Homo sapiens: one gene and its partners. The protein of the gene in region 1 purifies or fractionates together with the protein of each later gene. This does not show direct contact. Each region holds a gene or a part of one and is shown on either strand. Other genes may lie near its edges.

The links.
Region 2: the proteins of MTARC1 (region 1) and BDH1 purify together in Homo sapiens (affinity purification with mass spectrometry, with the first as the bait; one large-scale study listed by BioGRID). This does not show direct contact.
Region 3: the proteins of MTARC1 (region 1) and PDHX fractionate together in Homo sapiens (co-fractionation; one large-scale study listed by BioGRID). This does not show direct contact.
Region 4: the proteins of MTARC1 (region 1) and SLC25A29 purify together in Homo sapiens (affinity purification with mass spectrometry, with the first as the bait; one large-scale study listed by BioGRID). This does not show direct contact.

Annotation. Positions count from the first base shown.
Region 1 is NC_000001.11:220,803,475-220,808,579, reverse strand, and holds part of MTARC1 (mitochondrial amidoxime-reducing component 1 precursor), read right to left. Parts: intron 3,529-5,105; coding exon 3,467-3,528; intron 3,378-3,466; coding exon 3,306-3,377; intron 1-3,305. UniProt on the Homo sapiens protein: Catalyzes the reduction of N-oxygenated molecules, acting as a counterpart of cytochrome P450 and flavin-containing monooxygenases in metabolic cycles.
Region 2 is NC_000003.12:197,513,321-197,518,425, forward strand, and holds part of BDH1 (D-beta-hydroxybutyrate dehydrogenase, mitochondrial precursor), read right to left. Parts: intron 1,097-5,105; coding exon 944-1,096; intron 1-943.
Region 3 is NC_000011.10:34,922,661-34,927,765, reverse strand, and holds part of PDHX (pyruvate dehydrogenase protein X component, mitochondrial isoform 1 precursor), read right to left. Parts: intron 1-5,105.
Region 4 is NC_000014.9:100,292,383-100,296,901, forward strand, and holds part of SLC25A29 (mitochondrial basic amino acids transporter), read right to left. Parts: exon of another isoform or gene 3,244-4,519; intron 996-3,243; coding exon 912-995; intron 651-911; coding exon 1-650. UniProt on the Homo sapiens protein: Mitochondrial transporter of arginine, lysine, homoarginine, methylarginine and, to a much lesser extent, ornithine and histidine. Does not transport carnitine nor acylcarnitines. Functions by both counter-exchange and uniport mechanisms.

The DNA of each region.
Region 1 (5,105 bases):
TCTGAGCAACCTGCCCAATAGCAGAGAGGCTGTGGACACCACTGTTTGCTTCCCTTCCCATGATTTATGGGATGTGGCCAGGCCTTTCTCTTCCCGATTTATGACCACCTGTCTTGGGAAGAACATAAATTACACATCCATGGCAATTTAAATCTCAGTAAGAGATAGGAGAAGACACCTAGGCTGGCCGCACTGTCTCCTGGGGTATTAGAAGCAATTAGGGCCAGATTGTTGGGCTTCACAAAGCCTGCGGAAGATCAGGGGGGTGTGCTGGCTCCTTGCGCCCCCCGCCTTCCCACCCTCACTCTGTGTTTAGGGTCAATTATCCTCCTTCTATAAACACAGGCTCCCAATGGAGGAAGGGGGGCACTGAAGATGCAGAGAACAAGCCCAAACACGTGAAGTGCTTTGCGGAGGCTGTTTCTGCAAGAGCATAAACCTTCTAAATCCAGAGGGAAGGATGCCCCACACCGAGCAACACACAGGGGGAAGAGAAAGAACAAGATGGACAAAAAAGGATGACAGCCAATTCCCCAAACCACTTGGCTGATTTACACAGAATCATCTATTTCTGTCCTGCCTCCTTTATTTTATAGGGAAGAACACTCAGGGTCTGAGTGCGGGCAGGGGTAGGAGCACAGCAGTCGGTGTGCTGCACATCCAGGTCTCCTGACTCCCAGCCCGGGATCTTCCCGCTGGCCCACCCTGCTTTCTGCCCCTAGTAGCTCCTCTGTGGCCATGGAAAACAGGAAGACTGAATTCTGGTTTGTTCTGATGGTGAGTGAGCGCATTTCAAAGAATAGCTATAACCCTGGTCCTCTCATCAATGTTCTGTCACATATAGTGACATTTCCCCCCAAAATTTTACTATGAAAATTCTCAAGCAGGCAAATGGTGAAATAATTTTACAGCAAACACCCATTTACCCGCTGCTTGAATTCTGAGCTTAACACTTGACTATATATATTTGTTTTTTTGTTTGTTTGTTTGTTTTTGTGAGACAGAGTCTCACTCTGTCATCCAAATTGGAGTGCAGTGGCACAATCTCAGCTCACTACAACCTCCACCTCTCGGATTCAAAGGATTCTCCTACCTCAGCCACCCGAGTAGCTGCAAATACAAGTGACCACCACCATGCCCAGCTAAGTTTTGTATTTTTAGTAGAAACAGAGTTTCACTATGTTGGCCAGGCTGGTCTCGAACTCCTGACCTCAAGTTATCCACCAGCCTCAGCCTCCCAAAGTGCTGGGATTACAGGCATGAGCCATCGTGCCTGCCCTTGACTATGTTTTCTTTATCACACATGTATCTATCCATCAATCCACTGTATTGTCTTTTTGCATTTCCAAGTAAGTTGCAGACACCAGTACATTTCAACTCTGAACAGTTCAGCTTGAATATTATTACCTAGAGTAAAAACCATTATTTGCTTTTTTTTTTGAGGTGAAAGTTACATGGAATGAAATATACCAATCTTAAATGCTCCACAATATTAGCTTTTTACAGAAAAGTTGTTAATGTTTTGAGTATTGAGAAACATCTCTCAAAATGTTGGGATTCCCTTAGGCTGGTCTGTAGCCCCCTCTTTGAATGTTGATGCAAATCACACCCAACGCTGTTGGAGCCAGGTAGAGACCAGCTGCTTGCTATCCACCTAAGGATTCCTTGAGTACCACAAACCCCCTTCTCCGTAATTCCCTCCACCCACCCTGTTTGACTTCCCTGCTGACCACTGTCTCTCTGCCAGGTGGCCTAGGCCCTCATGGCCACCTGCTAACCTTGCTGCAGCCTGGCCCACACTCTGGGACTTATCTCCTATAGGATGACAGGTGCTGGCCAGAGAGGTCAGGCCACAGCCTCATGCTCAGGGGTGAGGTGACAGCGGGGATGACAGCCCTCCAGCCCAGGGCTTCAGCTTGCCCAGAGATGGGGCCAGATCTGGGACAGTAGAATTGTCAGGGAGGGATTGGTTGTTGATCAAAGATGACTGAATCATTGGCCCCCAAAAAGGCCATGAGGTTGGTGAGAGGTGGAAGGAAGGGGAGGCAGACAACCTCACGTTACAGGGAATGAGTCCTGCTCCACAAAGCCTAGAGCAACCTCTCTGTCATGCGCTCGTTCATGATGGTTTGGATACAAGATAGTCACATCTCAACTGCATTCCTTCCTCAAGGTTCCCAGGGCCCTCCCTTCTACAAGATACACCTGGGGAGGCCAAGTCAGGACCAAAGCCAAGGAAGGGTCTTACACAAAGCCAAGGAAGGGTCTCAGGGGCTGTAGAGAAGAGACCTGACACCTGGCCTGTGACTCAGCATTCAATGTCAAAGGGACCAATGAAGAGAAGCACCCTTAGTTCATTTTCAGAGTTTCAGCAATTTCCTGGGTCCCAAATTTGGCAGATATCAGCTCTGAAGTGCTTGTATGCTAAACTGTTATTGTTGTTTTCACGAAAGTAATGCAGAGTAATTATAGAAAGTTTAGAGACTGCATATGAGAATAACCCTTTTCCATAATTCTATGACTATACCAAAAGAGTATCTCCATTTTGTTTTATATCCTTTCAGCCTTTTATCTACTCATGTGCATTTATATGTTTTTTAAAAAGTAAAATCAAATAAAAATGAAAAAGTAAATAGTGCTATTTTATAATCAACTTTGTAAAATCAACACAGCATCTTGACTATCTTTATATACAATTTAAAATGATTCTCGGTACTGTGTCTTTCACCTAAAATTTTTCCTTAAGAAATTTTAAAGTAAACATAAAAGTAGAATAGTGCAATAAACCCCACGTAATTATCACCCAGATTCTATTTATGAAGATTGTGACACATTTTTAAAATGTACTCATTTATCCTTTTTTTCTTTTTGCTAAAATAATATATGGCAAGTTCCAGATGTCACATCACTTCACTCCTACACACATATTTCAATCAGCTTCTCTAAAATATATTGACATTTCTTATACAACCACAATGCCATTAGGACACCTAGTACATTTTTTGGTATCATCTAATACTTAGCCCGTAATAAAATTTGTCAAAATGCATAAGCAATTTTTAAACATTGATTTATTTGAATTATGATTTCTAAATGAAAAATAAAAGTACTTGTTTAAGCAGACATGTTGGTGTCCAAAACACCAGGGAATGTTTCCCAAATTATCTCGTTAATGGGACCCTCTTGAGTTTCAAGACTATGTGTGTGGTGTTTTCACTGCTTCCTCTTATAAACATTAAGCAACAAATATTGCTTCCGTTCCCGGCACCTAAACCCGAGGATGAGCCCCGTCTGCCCAGTCCTACCTCTTCAGTGTTTCCAGCGGTTCCTTCCTGCTCATGACACCGGTGTCTGGGTCCACTGTGGTTAAAATGCATCTGGACACACACACAGAGCATCATAAGGGGGACAGAGCAGAGCGAACTTATCCCCACCTCCACCCCACAGGGACAGGAAAGCACCTTACCTGGAACAAGCCATCACCCTTTTCAGTTCCACGTCACCAATAAGAAGCTCATCCCAAGAATCCTAGGGGACAAAGCACAAATTCCCATGAGCATCTCTGGGCCCTGCCCCTGACACGTGTGTAGAGATTTCCCAGGAGCCCTCGCACCTAACGATGTCACCCACATCAGTGATGGCAGCCTTCTGTTCTCCCCCAGCCCTGCTCTGCCAAGTGATACCCACACACCTTGGCGTTCCCTCTCTCTGGCTTTGATATGCCAGTTGATTCCCCTGAGATGAGATTTCCCTCTCCTCTCACTTGTAAAAATGTCATGGAAACTCGCCTCGCTCAGGGAGGCTCCCTGATGATCCCACTTTGACTGGTGGTGGGGGGTGGGGTGCACAAAGTGAATGGGGTGGGTGAAAGTGGGGAGGGGGACAGATGGGGGCATTGTTCATTACTTCAGATTATATCAGATCCCTTAGTGCCTGCCTGAAGTTATATGGATCAAGAGCCTTAAGTCACTGAGTATGTGCATGTCTCCCCTAGCCAGATACGGACACATCAGGAGCAGGACCAGCAGCCTCATTCCTCTTTGATTTTTGCTGAAGTATTTACGAAGCACTGCAGCCAGGGGAGCTGTGGGCTGGGTCAGTGGAGCCTAGTTTCCACGACAAACCGCATTAGTGGACCAAGGCCCTCCAATCCAGCAGCCAAGATAGGCCATCCATACATGGAATTCTAAAGATAAATATTTTATTTTTAAATGCCAGAAATATTCACAAAAAGCACTCCAAGGCAGCACGTCATGTGTTGGTTTAACTGTGCTGGCAATGCTTACTCTGGGGATTCAGAGGCATGACTCTCCAGGCTGGTCTGGTTACAGGAAGTTTTATAAGGAATAGGTAAGATGGGTGCTGAGTCTAAAAGGGCAGAGAGTTTGAGAGGCACAAAAGAAGGGTAAGGGGACTCCAGGCAGAGGGGACAGCAATAAGAAGGAAGGGCGCTGAGGAGGCAAAGGACATTTGATTATAGTCCTGACCTTCTTACCCTCGGAGAGAATTGCCCACCACACGAGGGCGGAAGGCAAAGACCTGGAGTTAAAAAGCAAACTGCCTTGTCCTTGGATGATCATGAGCTCAGAATTTTAACTCCAATAGTGTGTGTTATTCTTGATATATATGACACAGGGGTTTTGTTCTATCGTAAATCATAAAATGGATCTCAAGCACATATTTTCAACAGTCCAGAAAACTGGGCACAGCGGATTAGCACAGCCACAGCCTGTCCTGTGAACATTTCTCCACAAGGGGGCACTATGGTCACAAAAAAACACATAAAAAGGGTATAAAAGGAGAGAAATAAGGGTTCCACTTAGGAAATTAAGTTATTATTAATTAAAGAAATACTTCCAGAGCCCCTTCTATTCCAAAAAAAAAACTACTGGAGATTGAGTCATAAGCACTGATGAGCCCAGGAAAGTCTTCCTACAGCACCTGGAGGTGACCAGTTCAAACAGGACAAGCCTGGTATGGGAGAGGCTCAGAGCACACGGTAGCTTCAGAGAAGGGAGGGAGCGCTTTGAGGTCCAGCAATCAGAGCAGGCTTCCCAGGGGAGGGGGCTTTTAATCCAGGCTTTTAGAGAATGTCAAGAGTTTTA
Region 2 (5,105 bases), on another chromosome or scaffold:
GGGAGGGCACTCAGCCCATCCAGGTGTGTCCCCGGGAGGGCACTCAGCCCATCCAGGTGTGCCCCCGGGAGGGCACTCAGCCCATCCAGGTGTGCCCCCGGGAGGGCCCTCAGCCCATCCAGGTGTGCCCCCGGGAGGGCACTCAGCCCATCCAGGTGTGCCCCCGGGAGGGCACTCAGCCCATCCAGGTGTGTCCCCGGGAGGGCACTCAGCCCATCCAGGTGTGTCCCCGGGAGGGAACTCAGCCCATCCTGGGGGAGGCACCTTTCAGAAAGCTCTAAATTTGAAGTCACTGAAGGGTTGGGGTTTCCATCTAAAATCCTACAGCTGCAGTCTGTGTTCATGCTTGTTGTTGCTAGGACTTCACCATAGATGTATGGATCTTACCCTTTTTGCCACAATTGTTTGCTATGCCAGAGAAAAAAATCCAAGTCAATGACTTCTAAAGTGGTTTGCTCACATTTGGCCACCCACATGGTTTGGGTGTTTTGTTGGTTTTCCAAATTTCTAATCTTGATTTTTACTATTGTTCCCTAATACCACAATGATCTCATTTTTTAAACTACGATATAAATAACCCATAGAATGAATATGCCAGATTTTACTAACCACACCTGACTGATACAAAGATGTGTACACACAGCTTTGTGCAAAGGGTGATTCTCTCTATAGATTAGGTGTGCAGAGTGGATGGCTGCTCAACTCTTTAAGCTTTTGCTGCATGGACCACTGACCTCTTACCTGCTCTGCTTCCTCCTCCCCTACCCGGCCACAGCCCCTCTGCCCACCATCACCCCAGGCCCAGCATAGTCCCTGGGATTCACGAGCTCACCTCTGCTGAGTTGTGGACATTGGAGCTGCTGGGACAGGTATTTCCATTCTGAGCAAAGATGAACACGTGGGGCAGGTTCAGGGGCAGGAGGGAGCTCCCTTTCCCACTCACCTTTGGCCCTTCGGATGAGGGGGAGAAAGGATTTCGTCATCCGCACTGTGCCCCAAAGGTTCACTTCTGCCACCTGCTTGTAGGTCTCCAGGCTGGTGAACTCCACCTCCCCGAACGTTGAGATGCCGGCATTGTTAACGAGGCCCCACATGCCTGGACAGGAGAGGGATAGATGTGCATTTACCACATGGGCTTGGCCCAGACATTGCCCATCAGCCTGCAGGCCAGCCTCCTCTCTGCTTCTTTCCTGTGACTTCCCAGCCTCTCGCCCAGTGCTCTCAAGAAACTTTCTAGAGTCACTCAGGAACGACAGGAGGTAAAGAGGCCTAAAGTGCTGACTGCAGCCCTCCCTTGCGTCTAGAATGTCCAGTCCTCACGTCACATCTGCCTGGCTCGAGTCTCTGGGCCCATCATGACCCAGCCTGCCGTGTCCCCCGGCCTTCAGTCTCACCTCACCTCAAATTCCCACTTCCACTCCACTCCACCCCATCCCATCCCCACACCCTGAGTTTGAGTTTCACGCCCCGTTCCTGTTTACTCATCTCTGCCCTTGAGCTTTTGCTCACGTCTTCTCTTCTCTTGCCAGAAGCCAGGGAAATCACAGGGGAGGTGGGCACGAGGAGGCAGCTGTGTTTTGCAGGGACCTCTCTGAGTTCAGTTTGTTGGGGTGCAAAGGCTGGATGGGTCAGAGCCTCAGGACAGAGCTGGGCCCTGCCTCTTTGTTGTGGAAACCCTCAGTGTTTGGTCTCCCGGGCCGATAGCCCCGTGCTCCTTCCCAAGGCACAGCCTCAGAGCAGAGCTCCCATCCTGGGGCCCTCCCCTGCCTGTGGGAACTCGGCGCTGCTTTATTTTCCAAGTTAATCATGGAAATGAGTTTGTGTAAATGACAGAGTAATTGGTCTCTAGCTGCTTTCCTTCCGTGTTACCCAAATTAAAGCTTCATTCACTGCCCTCTGGTGCCTTCTCCTTCAATTATGGAGAATTAAGGGCATTTATTAGGGAAAGGAAATTGCTGGTTAACAGAGTGTCCATGAAGAGCTCACTCCCACTCTCCACCAAAGCCTTGCGGGTGTCTCCCTGCTCTAGGTCTCACCTGTGACCTCGCTCAGATGCTAATGACAGGATCAGCGTCATCCACGACCCCACAGCTCCCACTGTCTCCCTGCAGACGCGCCCTGAGTCTTCACCTTCTTCTCTTCCCAGGAGGAGCAGCAGGCCACTCCCCACCCGTCATGGCTGACACTTCCACGTCATCTTCGAGACCATAGCCACTGATCCTTCTCTCTCTTTTACACAATTTCAGCTTTTCCACTGCCCATGACTCCATCCCTTCAGTTCTATACACATTAGGAGCTCAACAAATGTGTGTTAGATGAATGAGTGTCCACAAATACCGCATTTCCATATCCCGAAGATCCTTCTGTAACTGTGCTACCTGCTCTCCCTCCCTCCACGCCAGGCTTCCAAGAACTCTATCCTGTAATACAAAGATTAGCCGGGTGTGGTGGCGGGCACCTGTAGTCCCAGCTACTCGGGAGGCTGAGGCAGGAAAATCTCTTGAACCCAGGAGGCAGAGGTTGCAATGAGCCGGATCATGCCACGGCACTCCAGCCTGGGTGACAGAGCACGCACACACACACACACACACACACGCGCGCGCGCGCGCTCTATCCTCTCCATCTCCCTTCCATACCACACTGGGTCCCAGCCCTCAGCTGTCCTGACCACGCAGTCTCCAGGGTCTCCAGGGTGGTACACCAAGGACCTCACCCCCAGTCTTCACTCTCCTCAGGCTCGCTACGATATGAGTACTGCCAGTACTCCTTGAGGCTCACCTCTCCCTCAGCATTAGTGATACCCAGGCATCTCCTGCATCTTCCCTGACACCTTTCTTTCACCTGCCCCCAGATACAAGTGGCCCCCAATGTCCTGGCCTAATCCTGCTCCTCTCAAAGTACACTTAACTCTTAGGTGTCCTCATCTTCTTCATGTTTGTGAATTTTGCAGCCGTTTTGTGTTTGATTCATAACGGACAATATCCCATGACTTAAAATGCATACAGCCCTTTCTCTACCTAAAAATAAAACAATGACATTTGACGCTACTATCCAAAAAAGTTTAATGAAACATGACCTGTGAAAGTGCACAGCCCCTGGATTACAGCTTTAATGAGTGTTGAGAGTGGTGGACCTAGTTGCCATCTGGAATCCTCAGCCAATGTTCTGAATAAACTCACGGAGGCATGCCCGCTGGTTGGGTGACAGCAACTTTCCTGTAACATCCCCAAGATCGCCTCCGCACCAGTGGCCCCTCAGTTCTCCTTGGGAGTCACGGCTCTCTCTCCTCATCCCATCTCCTGTCTCGCTTCCACCTGAATGTCCCACGGGTCCCTGACTCACCCTAACCACAACCAACACGTCAAGTTTCCAAGCTGCCCAAGCCTGCTCCTCCTCTTTGTTAATGATTTTACTTTTGTCTGTGACTCCTCCAGCTCCTCCACCCCTCCCCCACCTACTGAGTCACCCAGTACTGCTAATATTACAGCTCAAGATCAACATGACAGCTGGCAGACCCCTAATCAAGCCCTTTACATTCATTAACTTCCCTGATCCTCACAACCACCCTGGAAAATAGATCCTAAATTGTCTCATATCCGGTTGAGGCAACTGAAGCTCAGAGAGGTTAAGCACCTTGGTCAATGTCACCCAGCTAACAGGCAGGGAGGGTGGGATTTGGACCCAGATCTCTCTGAGGACAAAGTCCCCACGCCCCAGGCTGTTGCTGGTTTCCTCTGCTGGGTCAGTTCTTCCTTCCTGTTTCCACTAGCATTCCCTTGGGTCCTCGCTGCCTGTCTCCTGGGCTGCTGGAGAAGCCTCCTGGGTCTGTTTGTCTCACTCACTCCTCCACCTCCGTCTTCACCCCACCCCTCAGGCAGACCCATCAGTCACTTCCTGCTCTATGGTCTCCATCCCCCCTCAGGCCGACCCCCGCATCAGTCATTTCCTGCTCTATGGTCTCCATCCCCCCCTCAGGCCGACCCCCGCATCAGTCATTTCCTGCTCTATGGTCTCCATCCCCCCCTCAGGCCGACCCCATCAGTCACTTCCTGCTGTATGTCTCCATCCCCTCCTCAGGCTGACCCCCCCACCCCATCAGTCATTTCCTGCTCTATGGTCTCCATCCCCCCTCAGGCCGACCCCCTCATCAGTCATTTCCTGCTCTATGGTCTCAATCCCCCTTCAGGCCGACCCCCCCATCAGTCACTTCCTGCTCTATGGTCTCCATCCCCCTTCAGGCCGACCCCCCCATCAGTCACTTCCTGCTCTATGGTCTCCATCCCCCCTCAGGCCGACCCCCCCAATCAGTCACTTCCTGCTCTATGGTCTCCATCCCCCTTCAGGCCGACCCCCCCATCAGTCACTTCCTGCTCTATGGTCTCCATCCCCCCTCAGGCCAACCCCCTCATCAGTCATTTCCTGCTCTATGGTCTCCATCCCCCTTCAGGCCGACCCCCCCATCAGTCACTTCCTGCTCTATGGTCTCCATCTCCCCCTCAGGCTGACCCCCCCAATCAGTCACTTCCTGCTCTATGGTCTCCATCTCCCCCTCAGGCTGACCCCCCCCATCAGTCACTTCCTGCTCTATGGTCTCCATCTCCCCCTCAGGCTGACCCCCCCCAATCAGTCACTTCCTGCTCTATGGTCTCCATCTCCCCCTCAGGCTGACCCCCCCAATCAGTCACTTCCTGCTCTATGGTCTCCATCTCCCCCTCAGGCTGACCCCCCCCATCAGTCACTTCCTGCTCTATGGTCTCCATCTCCTCATCAGGCTGACCCCCCCCAATCAGTCACTTCCTGCTCTATGGTCTCCATCCCCCCTCAGGCCGACCGCCCCCCATCAGTCACTTCCTGCTCTATGGTCTCCATCTCCCCCTCAGGCTGACCCCCCCAATCAGTCACTTCCTGCTCTATGGTCTCCATCTCCCCCTCAGGCTGACCCCCCCCAATCAGTCACTTCCTGCTCTATGGTCTCCATCTCCCCTCAGGCCGACCCCCCCCCATCAGTCACTTCCTGCTCTATGGTCTCCATCCCCCCTCAGGCCGACCCCCCCCATCAGTCACTTCCTGCTCTATGGACTCCATCCCCCCCTCAGGCCGACCTC
Region 3 (5,105 bases), on another chromosome or scaffold:
GTGCAATATATTTTGTAGTTATTCTAACTAATCTATCCTCAGGCTTTCATGCTAGAAAAATCATTTCATAAGCATTAATGTGTTAATAAAAGTACATATTTCATTCTAGCATACCCTCTTTTGATTAGAACACTATATGGTATCTTTTCCAGACGTATTTTTCTGATGGGAAAGTAATTACACAATCGTAAGATAAACTTGAAGTGACAGGCCTGCACATAATTAATATCTGCCCTTTATGGCTGCTGTCAACTCTACTAAGATAGTGTAGACTTTTCTAGACTCCTTGGAATGGAATTTTATCCTTTACCTAATATTAATTAATTTGCATTTGAACTTATATGCAGACTCCCTCCTTATTCCAGTAAGCTGTACATTCTACCATTCTCTTGTCAAATTAAGAAGGCCTTAAGATATGCACCAATTACGTTTCCTAGTATTAGTTTCCCACAACTACAGGTAAGTAGTTTGCTGCACTCATTACACAAGTTTTTCAATTAGTATTCACAAAGTTCTCAAAATTTAGTTAAAATTTAACGTTTTGTAGTCACTTCAGTGTTCTGCTCCTTCTTATAAAGCTAGCAAATTATATCTAATTGGCTTGTGAAGTCTACCCTTCCACAGCAGTTACAAAACATTTTTAAAAATTTTTAAATGACTATTGTAATGTATGTGGTCCAGTACTTTATATTTAAACTTGCTGATTTTAAAAGTAAAGTCTCATGACTCATAACTATTTTACTCTTTTTTTACATCAACAGAATGACACAATACATTAAAATTTTTTGCTTAGCTTATTGCTGTTTTCCCTGCCATTTCTGCTACATGAGCAATTTACCAATCACTGAATTTTACAGTAATCCCTCTAAGCAATTCCTGTATTTCCTCAAATGGGCTCTTCCAATTTTTCTACAGCATAATTCTGACTTCAATTTCAAATATGGTACACTAATCTAATTCTAGTTTCTTCTTCCCTAAAGTATTTCTTTTATCCTAAGAACAAAATGCTCATACTTCAGCAAACTCAATTATATCAAAGCTTTAAATTGATGATTGATTCATGAATGCTAAAAGGTCTCTAGATTAAAAAAAAAATTTAATACAAGCAAACTCTTAAAATACAAATGCAGAACAAACTGCTTTATGGTTAATATGAAGCAGATTTAAGCTCCATTACTCTGACTAAAGTAATTAAGGGAATTCAGCAGTTTACATATGGTACAGCTTAAACATCATGCTCTAGTTCATTTATAGGCTCTAGTTCATTTATAATCCAAGCATGCAAAAATCATGAAATGAAGATAGACCAAATGAAAAAGTAAATTATCCAGTACTTTCTTAGTGTGGCTCCCTGTCTCTAACATTAATTTGCTTCTTCTCTAATAGGGAGAGAGACTGTTCATTTAATCACTTCTCATTCCAATGTCAGAACACACTAAATAAAACGGAGCCTTCAAAATTGCTGTTCAAATGAAACAATTCTGCCATCTGCAGGCTGGATGAAATAAGGCAGAATAAAGTAAAAGTAATTTAAAAATCAGCACTAGGCACAGAGTAATATTAACACTTGGAATAAAGGCAGTTATAGTATTTTTTGTTTTAAAGGATCGTTTGTCATATAAGTCTTCTTTGTTCAAATAGTTATTTTGGTGTGGTACTGGAGTAAAAATAGACTGAAAATGTCAATGGACCACAACAGAAAATGAATGCACAACAGTTTGTGTGAAAACAGCATTTACAGGTCTTGGCATGCTAACAAACATAAAAAAGATAACCCATAAGCAATATATAGGTTGAGTATGCCTTATCAGAAATGTTTGGGACTATAAGAGTTCTTAATTTCAGATTTTTTCAGATTTTGGAATATTTGCATTCATTATTCTTACTGGTTGAGCATCCCTAATCTCAAAGTCCAAAATCCCAAATGCTACAATGAACATTCCTTTGAGCATCACCTCTGAGCATCATGTCAGTGCTCAAAAAGCTTTGGATGTCAGATTTTCAGATTAGAGATGCTCAAACCTGTATATGGCATCATCCAATTACTACCTGCCCAGCTTGTACACATACAAAGATTGAAATGAAATACTCCAAAATGACAATAGTAGTCATTCTAGCTAGTGATATTACTATAAGGGCTTTTTATTTCTTTTATTTCTGATAACCTACATTTTCATACATGTCTACAATAAATTTATCCAATCTTACTTCCTCTTTCAAACTTAACTAACACTAAGTTTAAAAATGTGCTGTTTGCTTTTGTTAATTTTAAGCAGAAACCCACAAGGACACAGAGAAAAGGAATAACAGCATACAATTTTGGAAGCAGAAAAGTAAATAGATACGTAATAATCAATTAAAGAGACCCTAGAAAGCTGTATCCTAAGCCAGGGAGGATTTGGGTGGCTGCTGTTTGAAAAGTAGCTAGATACCTGGATCCCCTCTCTTAATCCAGTGGTAGGTAACAACCCTACCCTCATTCAACAGAAGACTGAAGCTTGTTTTCTCTGCAGAGGGCAAAAAGAAGAGCTTGAAGTTCAATCTACATAGCTGAGGATATATAAAAACTGCAAAAATAAGTTAAGTGAGAAAGTATCTGATGTGGCTGACATTACAGAAAACTGTGTGGAGAAGCTATTACATACCGTGAGATAAATTAGAAATTATCACAGAAAAAACTAACTAAAAATTTAAAGGGCAGCAATAACTGCAGCAAAAAGAAAGCTAACAAACAAAATATGGGACAATCCTCAATTGTGCATAATATTTGTTTAATGTAAACACTGAATATTTGACCAAGAATTACAAAATAATTTCACTGGGGAGGGAAAACAGAGGGCGGCACTGACCGGCAGTCATCCACAGAAAACGGCTAAAATAGAAACAGAGAGATGGGCAAATGCCAGAAGAAAGTTAAGAGACAAAACTAGTTACTTCTAAGGAAGACTGGGAAAGTTGGGTGAGATGGGGCAGAGATCCACTGTACTGTTACAAGCCTTTCAGTACTATTTAAACTATATGCATGTACTATTGTGCTAAATGAAATATTTTATTATTTAAATATTTAATTTAAAAAAACTCAAGGAGAAGCAGAATACCACAGTGATTTAGAGAATAGGTACTGGAATCAAACTGCCTAGGCTCTAATTTCAGATCCACCACCTACAAGTTATTTATTCTATCTATGTCTGTTTCCTCTTCTCTAAAATGGTGCCATAAATAGATTTTTGTAAAGAAATAAGGTAGGCCGGGAGCAGTGGCTCATGCCTGTAATCCCAGCACTTTGGGAGGCTGAGGCGGGTGGATCACATTAGGTCAGAAGTTCAAGACCAGCCTGGACAACATGGTGAAAGCCCGTCTTTACTAAAAATACAAAAATTAGGCTTGGTGGCACATGCCTATAGTCCCAGCTACTTGGGAGGCCTGAAACCGGGAGGCAGAGGTTGCAGTGAGCCGAGACCGCCCCACTGCACTCCAGTCTGGGCGACAGAGTAAGGCTCCATCTAAAAAAATAGAAAGAAAGAAAGAAGGTAACACATGGGACTTGGCAAAGAATAAGTCTCAAAAATGTTAGTTATTTATTTTTGATGGGCAGCATAGAAACAATTAAGAGGGTATATTCTGGAGGCATCCAGATAGCTGGCTAGATGTATCACAATATCCTATTACATTGTAAGATGTCACAATATTGTAGAATATCACAGTTCCTTCTTGGAGTAATGAGAGATGCATTCACAGGTTCCTTTCACCTTCCCAGCCTAAACTTGAAGGTTCCCTTTTTACTCTCTCCTTTACCTTATTCAGCAGTGTTCTCATGACTAAAGTACACTAATTCTTGATCTCTATTCTAACTACATTTCATACTTGAAAACCAACCTCTCATTAAAATCACTGGCAAATGTTTTACCTTCAGTGCTCATACTATTCACTTCCAAAGCTAAAAGCCAAATCAGGCATTCAACAAATGCCTACTGAACACTTGTTATCCTAGCCCTAGACCAAACCAGATTCTCGACCTCAAAAGGATTAAAATTTAGATGAGAAGATAAATACACAAGTACTAGACAGTAGTAGATAAAAATGCCATTAGACCATCAAAGAATTATGAGAGCTGAGATTCTACCTGATGGAACACTGGAAAACAACAACAAAAAAATCTGTACTAGTATTACTTAATATCTATTAGGATGGCTATTATCCAAAAAAAAGCTAGGAAATGACCAAAATGTTTATGGAAATAGTCTCTAGACTAGGTGGTATTTACAGACAAATTACAGGGAGATCTGAGTCCTCTGGACTCAGAATTATATATAAAATTGTGTATGTATGCACTTTCCTGAAGAAGTTAGTGGTATAGCTTTTATAGTTTAACAGATTTGTTCCCCTCCAAAAACCAGGGCTAATATATTCCCAAGAAATCTCTCCTGAATTATACATTTGCTGATCCTAATTTTTCCCTAGGAATGTTTCATATAATAAAGTCCTTGATTTATACAGTAACAGAAAGATATCAAGCAGATCACTAGCTATAGTAAATGTACTGCCTACCAAAAAAATGAATCACCCATATACCCCATCTTGTTCATAGAATCTGCTGATTCTATATTATTATACTTCTACTTAGTATCCAATGGCACATTAGAAAAGAGGTTAGCCAGAATTTTTAGATAGCATATGGTGTAGAATGCATTTCCTTTGAATGAAATAAACCAAACATTTTAGAAGAGATTTCAGCTTGGAATACTGTCCTTCTTGGTATTAAACTATAAAATTAAAATTCTACATGAAGTTCACTTTACTTTGCCATCTTGGGAGAAGAGCCAAAAGAAATTACCATTCCATTTACAGCCTAGCAAAAGAATACATACACACACACACACACACACACACACACACACACAACGATACTTTGGGAATTTACACATTTTGTCGTAAAAGGCAAATTAAGCTCAAGACAACAACAAGAAGGTATATTTAAGAGTACATCACCTTAGAAATTTACAGATAGGAGAAGTCAATATATACTCTAACTCTCTTAAATAGTCCTGCCACCCTTACACGTAGTCAAGAATTTTGGTGTCCTTAATTGTTCTAAAATGATAGGC
Region 4 (4,519 bases), on another chromosome or scaffold:
ACCGTGACGGTGGCGAAGGTGGCAGCGTTGACGGGGAAGGCGCGCAGCAGCGTGGACGCCAGCCCCCGTGTGAAGACGCGCCAGCCCTCGGCGCGGTAGCTCTGGTGCACGCAGTCCAGGATGCCGCGGTAGCGCGGGGCGCCCCGCAGTCCGTCCGCCTGCAGCCGCGACTTGACCACGTCCACAGGATAGGTAGAGAGCCAGGACACGATGCCTGACGTACCGCCCGCCAACAGCAGCTTGGGCACCAGCAGGCGGTCGCCCGGCTCGCAGCCCAGCGCCCGCGTGAGAGCGTCATAGGTGAGGAAGTAGACGCCGAAGCTGGGCGTCTCACGCAGCAACGTGGACACCATGCCCCGGTTGACGCCACGCAGACCCTCGTGCCCGTAGATCTGCGCGAGGCAGTCCAGCGAGCCCTTGTAGGTGCGCGCTGGGCCCGCGTCCTGCAGCTGCAGCCGCGTCTTGGCCAGCTCCATGGGGCAGCAGATGACGCACTGGATGGCGCCCGCCGCCGCACCTGCCAGGAACTGGTTGAGGGGCGAGTCGTGGCCCAGGGCCCGGAGGGTGTTGCCCTGCACCCCGAACACCAGCGCGTTGATGAAGGTGAGCCCCATGAGCGGCGAGCCCAGGCCCTTGTACAGGCCCAGCACCTGCGGGGACAGAGACGCCATCAGAGCCGGCAACGCGCACCTCCCGGGCCCTCCACGCGGAAGGGGGTCGGGGGATGGCAGCCCCAGCCCACCCCAGGGGCTCCTGAGGACCAAGCAGAATTTCGTTAGAACCTAGGTCCTGACTGGCCTCCTGGTCGTCCTGACACCTTCCTTCCTGGCTCTCTGGTCTGGGGTGGTGGCAGCCCGGAAGCTAGTTCCCCATCCTGTGCCTCCCGAGCCCCACCAGCCCAGGCCACTCACGCTCTCTTGCTTGATGATGGACTTGAAGCAGTGCAACGTCCCGCGGTACTGAGGCTTCTCCACGCTCTGGACCTGAAGCCGTACCTGGAAGGAGAGGGTCCAGTGAGAGGCAGGCAGGCAGGACCAGAGCACCCAGCTCCCGGGTCTGGTGCTTAGGCTGCCTAGGAGGGTCTCCCAAGGAGGCCGGGCACTCAGGCACAGTCTAAGACTTTTGTAATTCCAGGGCAGGGTGGGCCGGGTATCTATGCCTTCTCAGGATGGGGTGCCAGTAGGCAAACAGCTAAAGGGACAGGCTGCTGGAGACAGGGTAGGGGGTCCCCAAGATCTCAGACCAATTCAGGTTAAGCCTCTTGTTTACACTATGGCTGCACAGTGCACTGCCAGTGGGGCATGAACGACCTCCTGAGACTGGCCCGTTCTCCAGGTGATGCTTGTCATACTGCTGAGTGAGCGGCCCATGTCCCAGACTAGGCTGAAGGGCCCCTGCCCTAATGTCCCATCAGAGACTGGCTTCGAGGCAATAGGCGCAAAAAGTGATGAGCCTGGCCAGGTGCAGTGGCTCACGCCTGTAATCCCAACACTTTGGGAGGCTGAGGTGGGTGGATCACTTGAGGTCAGGAGTTCAAGACCAGCCTGGCCAACGTGGCGAAATCGTGTCTGTAAAAAAAATTAGCCTAGTGTGGTGGCATACGCCTGTAATCCCTGCTACTCAGGAGGCTGAGGTGGGAGAATTGCTTGAACCCGTGAGGCAGAGGATGCAGTGAGGTCATGCCACTGCACTCCAGCCTGGGCGAGAAAGGAACATTCCATCTCAATAAATAAATAAATAAAAATAAAAGCAATGACCTTGGCTCCAGGAGCTCCTGCCTGGTCTCTGCCAGTAGCCTCTCGTGAGAACAGCAGTTATGAGTTAATAGAGTGGTGGCAAGAGAACAGCCAACAACCTCCTTGGGGACCCACGTCAGCAGCTCTGGGGCCTGGGGCGCTGGTCAGGCCCCGCTGCCTCCGAGCCCAGTGGCCCAGAACCTCTTCCATGTCAAAGTGCTCTTTGTTGCCTATGAGCTTATCTTTGCTCAATAGGAGGCTCAGAGTTGCAGAGCGGGCGGTGGGAGTAAACTAGGTCAAGTCACATTCTCAGGGGCTGGTTCCCTAGGTCTGACTCAGAAATGATCATTCTTACAGCCAGGGCCACAGAGCAAGTGCCTTCGGTACTAGGCAGCATGGGACAGGGGAGGGCTTCACACTCAATTATCTCGGCATTGGGACAACTGCCCCCATTTCCAAGATGGGAAGACAGGCTCAGAGATGTTTAACAACTTGGCCAAAGCTGTCCTCTCCAGGGACATGAGCAGCTGTGTTGCTCAGAGTGAGGGTGGGAGGGAGTGCTAGCAAGGGAGAGCCCTCACCGGGAACAGCCAGGCTTCTGCCCGGATTCTGGAACCTTTTCCAATTCTCTCCACCAGAATAGGTGGGCCCTCTATTGGTGAATGCACTTATAAAAAATGTTTTGTTAGGAAACAAGTACCATCTCAGTACCCCCAGGACCTCAACAGCTGGAAGCCAATGCTTCAAGATTGGCCCGAAGCACCCTCCCACCCTGGAGGCCCAGTTCTTGGCCAACACCTTGATGCGAGGTTTGCTGCTCTCCCTTCAATGTTCTGGGGCCTCTGGGGGGATCTCTGTTCCTCCTGCAGCCCCAACACTGGCACTAAGAGGGCTGTGTGAGTAGAACTGATGTGACATGGAGCTGTCCCTTCCCAGGTTGGATACTCAGTGCCACCTGGGTAGTGTTGTGAAGTCTTTGCAGATCACAGACACTGGTGAATGCCCAAGTCCAGCCGGCTGGGGAATGTCAGGCTTAGGTCAACTCAGCTTCTCCCACCAATGTGGGCAGAGGCCTCTCCCCACTTTGTTTCTGACCCCTCAGTACCCCTCAGTCTGTGACGAGCCCTTGCTCTCTGGGAGAGGAACTGTGGCCCAGTGTCCCAAGTCTTGTCATTTATAGCTCAGGCTCTTAAAATCTTGGGGTGCCAGGCTCTCCTTTGAGGATTGATGGGAACGGACCCACCCCTGGGAAACTAGTCATTTGGACACAAGTTTAGGAAGCTCCCAGCTCCCCATAGGGCCGAGAGACCCCCACATGAGGACCCCCAATCCAGAGGGGGCTGATTTTTTTTGGCCAGCCCGAGCCCCCACCCCAGGACCTGTGCTGAGCCCAAGCTTGCCTCACACCCTCCCTGTCCCCTGCTACGGAGGGAACTCTGGGGTTGGGGAGATGGGCATGACAGGGTGGGGTCCAGGCTGGGATCTGGTTCACCTGGTCTGTACTTACTAGCGCTCTCCAGGGTGAGGCTTACGCCCATCTACAACAAAGTTACACTTTTGCTATGGATGGAGACAGCCCCTAGCTCAGAAAGTAAAGGCGGTTAAAGCAACACAAAATTTCAACATCACATCCAGGCGCGGAGCCCCCACAGCCAGCCCCCACCCACACTCCCCATCCCATGCCCAGGGATGGCCGGTCACCCCCTCATCATAGGTCAAGACAACTGCTCCCTGATTATTGCTGTGTCCAAGGAAGCAGGACAGAAAACTCCCTTCGTGTAGAAACGTGTGAAGGCCGTGTGCTTCAGGACGGTGGCTGTGGTTCTGGGCGCTATAGAGGAGATCCAGATCTTGGATTCTTTCAGTCCCAAGGGCCTGGGGGAATAAACTGTGACTGTCCCAGCCATGAGATAGTCTGTGGCCATGTGACAGTACGGACTGACACAGACTCGGGTGGCCCCTGATGATCCTAGGGTACAGCTGCAATTATATTCAACCAGGCAAAAGGGACCCGTGGTGTTGGAAGTGAGGACAGTGGGCCAGGCCTGTCATCCCAGCACTTTGGGAGGCCAAGGCAGGAGGATCACTTGAGCCCAGTAGTTTGAGACCAGCTGGGCAACATATCAAGACCCCATCTCTACTAATAACTTCAAAAAAAACATGAGCTAGGCATGGTGGTGTGTGCCTGTAGTTTCAGCTACTTGAGAGGCTGCGGTGGGAGGATTGCTTGAGCCTGGGAAATCAAGGCTGCAGTGGGCTATGATTGCACCACTGCACTCCACCTAGGGTGACAGAGCAAGACCGTGTCTCAAAAAAAAAGGAGGAAGTTAGGCCAGTGGAAGCCTCAGAAGGGGAGGGAGGAGTTGATAGGAGCAGGAGGGAAGACTTCCAGAGGGCTGGCCATGTTCTGTTTCTCCTGGGTGGCAGCTCGCCACGCATGTGTTTTGCGACGACTTGTACACCTAGGATGTGTGCACTTTCCTTCTTTTTTCTTTTTTGAGACGGAGTCTCATTCCGTTGCCCAGGCTGGAGTGCAGTGACGCGATCTTGGCTCACTGCAAGCTCCGCCTCCCGGATTCACGCCATTCTCCTGCCTCAGCCTCCCGAGTAGCTGGGACTACAGGCACCCGCCACCACGCCCGGCTAATTTTTTGTATGTTTAGTAGAGACAGAGTTTCACCGTGTTAGCCAGGATGGTCTTGATCTCCTGACCTTGTGATCCGCCCGCCTCAGCCTCCAGAAGTGCTGGGATTACAGGCATGAGCCACTAGCCTGGCCAGGAT